Homo sapiens: one gene and its partner. The protein of the gene in region 1 interacts with the protein of each later gene in a pairwise test. Each region holds a gene or a part of one and is shown in the gene's direction. Other genes may lie near its edges.

Evidence for each region. Proteins that work in one complex are often made in the same cells at the same time.
Region 2: the proteins of SYNGR1 (region 1) and EHHADH interact in binary tests that used the Homo sapiens proteins (3 or more experiments, as listed by UniProt).

What each region holds. Positions count from the first base shown.
Region 1 is NC_000022.11:39,373,882-39,377,537, forward strand, and holds part of SYNGR1 (synaptogyrin-1), read left to right. Parts: intron 1-434; coding exon 435-672; intron 673-2,170; coding exon 2,171-2,316; intron 2,317-3,656. UniProt on the Homo sapiens protein: May play a role in regulated exocytosis. Modulates the localization of synaptophysin/SYP into synaptic-like microvesicles and may therefore play a role in synaptic-like microvesicle formation and/or maturation.
Region 2 is NC_000003.12:185,244,040-185,247,695, reverse strand, and holds part of EHHADH (peroxisomal bifunctional enzyme), read left to right. Parts: intron 1-3,656. UniProt on the Homo sapiens protein: Peroxisomal trifunctional enzyme possessing 2-enoyl-CoA hydratase, 3-hydroxyacyl-CoA dehydrogenase, and delta 3, delta 2-enoyl-CoA isomerase activities. Catalyzes two of the four reactions of the long chain fatty acids peroxisomal beta-oxidation pathway.

The sequences.
Region 1 (3,656 bases):
ACAAGATGGGGCCCGGCACATGCCAGCATCTGGAGGAGTCAGCCTGGGGGTGGGGGCTGGGCAGGTCCACAGCCCAGGAGGGCCTGTGGCTCCTTGTTCTTTGAGAGTCGGTCCAGTCCCAGGATATCTTGGTGTCAGGGCCCAGGAAGACCTTTAGGACCTGGCTGAGGGGTGTTGGAAGGGGCCACATCTATGGTCAGAGAGTCCTCAGTGCCTGTGGCTGAGGAAGGAAGTGATTGACCCCCACCTGGTGCTATGTGACCCACATAAGTTACCCTCCCTCTCTGGGGATCCCCCTCTGAAATGCCTGCTTAACCCGGGTCTTGTAGCTCACGGAGGGCCAGGCAGCAGGCGAGGGTGGCAGCCTCCCCGTCCCCTGGGTGGTGTGAGGCAGGGGTCTGCCCAGGTCTAAGGTGTGGCCCCACCCCCGACAGCTGTTCTCCATAGTGGTGTTCGGCTCCATCGTGAACGAGGGCTACCTCAACAGCGCCTCCGAGGGGGAGGAGTTCTGCATCTACAACCGCAACCCCAACGCCTGCAGCTATGGCGTGGCCGTGGGCGTGCTCGCCTTCCTCACCTGCCTGCTGTACCTGGCCCTGGACGTGTACTTCCCGCAGATCAGCAGCGTCAAGGACCGCAAGAAAGCCGTCCTGTCCGACATCGGTGTCTCGGGTGAGCCCCACCCAGCAGGTACCCCCTGCACAGAGTCTACAGAGGGCTGTCCCGGCCATAGGAGGCGGCTGCCACCCTTCTTCCCATGTTTCAGATGAGGAAATGAGGTGCAGGCGGGTGAAGGGATGGACTCAGGGTCACATGGCTGGCAGCAGGAAGGATGGGACCAGGACAGGGCCTGGGACCCCAAAATAACCCATGCTGCCCACAGGCAGGGGAGCGTGGATGGGATTCTAGTTCCTTCTAGTCTAAGGGACCCATGGATGGCACTGGGCATGTGCCAGCCCCCATGGGTTGGCCCGTGTTTCAGTGGCCTCTTCTGTGCCACCTCCCTGGGGCAGCCTCATGAGGACTAAGCAAGGCGGTGACTGGGTGCCCAGTGCACAGCAGGGGCCCTGGAGCCTCAGCCTCCCCACGCCTCCCAGCCAGACCTTGGCAGGACCAGGGCCTGGACCTGTGGAGCCAACCTGACCTGCTGCCCTTTGCCCTTCAGAAGCAGCCTTTGGCAGAGGCACCCTGACCTCTGCTCCGTGACTTCCAGGAATCTGATTGGTGGATGCTCTCAGTCAGGGGTCCGAACCCGAGGCTTCAGCCTCGCTGTTCTGAGGCTTGGGTCCCCGGACTGGGACCAACCCCTAGTTCTAAGCCTGGAGCTCTCAGGATAAGCCAGGCTGAAGGCAGGTCATGAGGTCTAGTTTTAGAAGGAACTAGAACTAAATGAATGGTTCTCAAACTTCCACAGAGCCTCAGGGTTCCCTGGCAGTGCCTCTGGGAGGTGGGCTGGGCCCCAGGTGGGCACCCCACCTGCTTGGCAGATGCACGCCTTGTCCTGAGCAGGTCTGGGCTTCTCTGGGGAGACCTTGGCACTCACAGGAGATTGCGTGGCTATGAGGCTCCCACTGCTGACGCCCCCAGGCTCGGCTCTCAGTGGGCCCCTCGCTAAACCTGGGGCTCTGTGGGGTCGCAGCACGTTAGAAGTCGAAGCCCAGACCCACCCAGCCAAGCTGCCATCCTTGCCCCAGCCTCGTCCTCCTTCCCATACCTCATTTGTCTGGCAGCCTGAGGGTTGGGGTCTTCCTGCCTGCAGAGTTGCAGGCATCAGGGGTGGACCGGGGGGGCCCACGTCAGCGGTGTGGCTGGACATGGGGGTTTGGCAGAGGCTGCAGAAATGCGGCCTGAGTTGATTACCTTCTTTCTCTGTCTCTCCCTCCATCCTCCCCTCTCACTGCCCGTGGCTCTCCTCTGACTGGCCCTGACCCTGCCCTGTCTGTGGCCTCCTCCCCCCTGCATCTGGCTGGCTTCCCTCTTCTCGCCTGCATCTTCTCTTGGCTCCCCTCTCTCTTCCCCTACCCCCTTTGCCTGTCCCTTTGGGGGTGGGGGAGCATGGGAGATGCACTCTTGAATGTCCCTCTGTTCCTCGGCTTCCCCATTTTCTCCCCACTCACCCTCTCCCCCATGTGTGGCACTGCCTATTCTGCCCGGTCCTGGGACCCCCCAGCCTTCTGGGCTTTCCTCTGGTTCGTGGGATTCTGCTACCTGGCCAACCAGTGGCAGGTCTCCAAGCCCAAGGACAACCCACTGAACGAAGGGACGGACGCAGCCCGGGCCGCCATCGCCTTCTCCTTTTTCTCCATCTTCACCTGGGTGAGTACAGCCACCGCGCACCAGCCCACACTCGTCCCCTTTCCCCACTGAGCCCCTGGATGGGTGGCCTTTCGCTAGCCTGGGACCCGCTCTGCCTCTGGGAGCCCACACTACCCTCGCTCCCTCTTCTGCCTGCCTGTCTGCGGCGCTCACAGTGGTGCTGCCTCCCTCAGCAAGGAGGCTACAGCCCTCGGGGGTAGCATGGTCACTGGAGATGGCAGACCCTCACTGTGGTGCAGAGCAGCCTTCCTGGGGGTCACGGACCACCCCCCCCCCAAACCACTCTGGGTAAATGGTGTTTATTATCCCCTTTCACAGATGAGAAAGCAGAGGCCTAGACAGGAAGGTGAGGCTTACAGGGTTTGAGGCTGGGAAGCAGCCCTGCCTAGGAGTCAGGAGACCTGCTTCCGATCGGGGCTGCCTCTGATTTTCCTAGCCTCTGTCTTCCCATCCATAAAATGAGAGGGTAGGATCTGGGGGACACAGGTGTCGACATCAGATGCACATGGGCCAGGCAGGGCCTGAGAGCCGTGAGCAGGCCGGGTGACACATGCGTGCCTATCCTAAGTCCTAAGAGGGTACCTCTGCTCGGCTGCCAAGCAGGAATAGGGACCTAGAGAAGGCAGAAGTCTGAATTTTTACATGAAATCTGATCTTGATATGTTGGAAGTTTATTCAGGTTTAAACAATATATTGTGTGTGTCAAACAAAGTATGTCTCTGGGCCCAGCAGGCCCTGGGCTGGCAGCTCGGCTGGCCCCTCTTTCCCACTGGTCTGGGTCATGTCTGTTTCTTCTCTCCTAATCACCCTTCTGCAGAGATCTGGGGCCACATCACCTCCATAGCCCCATCCCAAGAGCCCTCCCCATAACCCACAGCTGCCTCCCCTCTGGACCGGCGAGCACTTCTGGGCCCAGCCTCCTGCAAGGAGACTCTTGAGGCTACATACAGGCCGCCAGCCGTCCCTGTTTCCCCCATCCTTCTGGTTTGCCCCGGGTTGACGTCTTTTTCTTTTTGAGGGCCCCTGGATATCCATTTTTGAGGGGTACACCCATCTCCCCAACAATATTAGAAGATAGCATTTGGAGGGGGAGACCCGTGGTTCAGGCCCTAGTGGGCCAGCCTTGGCTGCTCCACCCCTCAGTGTCCTCAAGACTGGGTAGGAAGAACCAGGTGACCCCAGGGGATCTCAGTCCAGAGAAGGTGCCCCAGAAGTGGGGACCACCCAGCCTACAGGGAGGAGTTTAGGGGCGGGGCTCACAGAGGAGTAGTGGATGATTTCTAGCCATGGGTCTGAAGTACCTGACCAACAGGTGCCTGCCCGGCCCCCTGAAGCCAGCC
Region 2 (3,656 bases), on another chromosome or scaffold:
AATATGTGTTAATGGTAGTCTGAAAAGACACAGATGTTAGAATCATGGCAATAAATAAATATAAAAATGTGAATCATTATAATATTACCATTTATCTTGCCTGTTATATGCCAGTACCATGTAGGTTATTTATTAAATAATAATAATAAAAATAATAGTATTTTTAAACATGTTATATGTTAATTCTCAGTTAGTCCTACAATCCTCATTTACAGGTAAGAAGAGATTTTGAGCCTGGGAGAGATTAATATAATGTCCCAAACCTTAACCAGTTATTAAATGGCTTACTCACTGTTTGGAAATTTAAGGTTTGTCACCCAAGATGATGACGATGATGCATGGGAAGAGTGCTCAGAATGATAAAGAACTTGATATTTCTTTGTAAGAAAGAAGGTAGATGAGAGAATGTAATTAGAGTTTGGAGGCAGAAAAAATTATTCTTCTAAAAAAGTATTAGGGATTATGAAACTTGACTTAATACATTTACATAGAACAATGCACCCCAAAATGGGAGAATATACATTCTTCTGAAATACATCTGGAACATTTACAAAAATTGACCAGATACTGAATTATAAAATCTTATCTAAATAAATTTCATTAAGAATACATTATCTGACAACAATGCAATTAAGCTAGAAATCAATAACAAAAATATAACTAGTAATTCTCATATGTTTGGAAGTTAATTTCCAATATCCTCTGAGTAAAAACAGAAATAATGGAATTTAGAAAAAATTTGGAACTGAATGGCAATGAAAACATAATATAAAACTTGAGGGATGCAGCTAAAGTAAAACTTATCAGAAAATTTATAGCTTTAAAAATATATATTAGAAAAGAAAAATGGCTGAAATATAATGAGTTAAGTATTTATGTAAAGGAACTGACAAACTAACCGTAAAATACACCCTAATCAAGTAGAAGAAAGGAAATAATAAAGAGGAGAAATTAATGAAATAGAAAACATTTGAATCAAGAGGAACAACAATGTTAGTTTTTTGAGACTAATACAATTGACAAACTCTGGAGAGATTGAAGGAGAAGAGAAGGCACCAAGCAATGCATATAAAGAATGATGAAAGGGATATCATTGCAGATACTGTAGCCTTTAAGAAAGATAATGGCCCTTTGGCTGATGCAAGAGCCTAGTGCGGTGGTGGGAGAGGTATCAGCAGGAGCAGCGCTGCCACGGGGCCTGGGGGCTGACCTGTCTGACTTCCCATCCATGCGGAGCCCACTGGAATCGCATCCATATCTGGAGATGAGATGATTTTTGATCCTACTGTGAGCAAGAAGAAAAGAAGAAGAAGAAGCCTTTTATGTTAGATGAGGAAGGGGATACTCAAACAGGAAACGCAGCCCTCAGAAACAAAAGTCTGGAGCCAGAGCCAACTGAGGACAAAGATTTGGAAGCTGACAATGAGGACAGTAGGAAAAACGATGCTTCTGATGATCTAGATGACTTGAACTTCTTTAATCAAAAGAAAAAGAAAAAAAAACAAAAAAGATATTTGATATTGATGAAGCTGAAGAAGTTGTAAAGGATCTTAAGATTGAAAGTGATGTTCAAGAACCAGCTGAACCAGAGGATGACCTTGACATTATGCTTGGAATAAAAAGAAGAAAAAGAAGAATGTCAAGTTCCCAGATGAGGATGAACTACTAGAGAAAGATGAAGCTCTAGAAGATGAAGATAGCAAAAAAGATGATGGTATCTCATTCAGTAATCAGACAGGCCCTGCTTGGGCAGGCTCAGAAGGAGACTACACATAAGAGGAGCTGCTGAATTGTGTGTTCAACATCATGAGGGAAAAGAATCCAGATATGGTTGCTGGGGAGAAAAAGAAATTCGTTATGCAACCTCCACAGGTCGTCTGAGTAGGAACCAAGAAAACTTCTTCTGTCAACTTTACAGATATCTGTAAACTATTATATTGTCAGCACACTTGCATTTTTGTTGGTTGAATTGGGTACAAGTGGTTCTATAGATGGTAATAACCAACTTGTAAAGGAAGATTCCAACAAAAACAGATAGAAAATGTCTTAAGATTTATCAAGGAGTATGTCACTTGTCACACATGCTGATCACTGGACACAATCCTGCAGAAGGACATGCAACTCTTATTTCCTACAGTGTGAAACTTGTCATTCTAGATGTTCTGTTGCCAGTATCAAAACTGGCTTCCAGACTGTCATGGGCAAGCGAGCACAGCCCTGTGCCAAAGCTAACTAATTTGCTAATCACTGATTTTTCAAAGCGTGTTGTGGATATGTGGCTAAACCAGTTTGCCATCAGAGTGGATATACCATTGTATTAAAAGCAAGATAAAAAAGCTGCCAAGTTCTTTGGCTAGTGGCTGGTTGGTGTGAAATCCTTGCAAGATGCTGATGCTCAAGCTGTTGACATATGTATAGACTACTTTAACAACTGTCAGAGAAACATGATATGGGGTAAAGAGGTGCTTTTTTAAAATCGTTCATAGACTTCTGTAAAATACAAGATAAATTAAAGTTATTGTAACAGTGAAAAAAGAAAGATAATGAAAATATTATGAACATGTAAAAAAAATAGCTTCTCAAAATTAACTCAAGAAGAAATAGAAAACCCAAATAGTTCTGTAATCATTAAAGAAATTCAATCAGTAATCAGAAATCTCACCAAGTAAATACTTGACCCTGAAGACTCCACTGGCAAGGTCTACTGTAAAGTCAAGGAAAATATTCCAATTTTACATAAACATTTCAGAGAATCAAAAAAGTGGGGCCACTTTCTCTATTAGTTTCTTAGAGCACCATAACAAATTGCCACAAACCAAGTGGCTTAAAACAACAGAAATCTATTCTCTCATTGCTCTGGAGGATAGAAGTTTGTAATCAAGATATCAGCAGGGTCATTCTTCTTCTGTTTTCTTTAGGGAAGAATCCTTCCTTGCCTCTTCTAGCTTCTTATGGTTTCTAGCAATCCTTGGCCTATGGATGCATCACTCCAGTCTCACTTTAATCACATGGCTTTCTTTCCTCCATGTCTAAATTTTCCTGATCTTCTATAGGCCCACCCTAACTCAGCATGACCTCATCTTAATTTGATAACATCTGCGAAGACCTTCTTTCCAAATGTCACACTCACAGCTTCTGGGTAAACACTATTCAACTCAGTACACTTCCCAACTCATTTTTTGAGGCAGCATACCCTTGATACTAACACCTGACAAGGACAGTATGGAAAAGAAAAATTACAGGCTAATTTCATTTATAAATGTAGATATAAAAATCGTAGTGTAAATTGAGACAACAAAGCAACTAGGTAACAATATTATGACGGAAACAAACCCTCATATATCAATATTAACCCTGAACATAAATGGCCTAAATCCTCCACTTAAACATATAGACAGGCAAATTGGATTAAAAAACAAAACCTGATCGTTTTCTGCCCACAAGTGACACCCTTTGGTAAAAACACCCACAAACTCAATGGAGTGGAAAAAGATACACTGTGCAAACACAAAACAAAAATGAGCAGTAGTAGCTATATTTACATCAGATAAAGCAGATTTTAAATCAACAACAGTAAAAAGACAAAGAATGTATTATATAATAATAAAGGGTTCAATACAAGGAGAAGATATAGCTGTCTTAAATATATATGCATC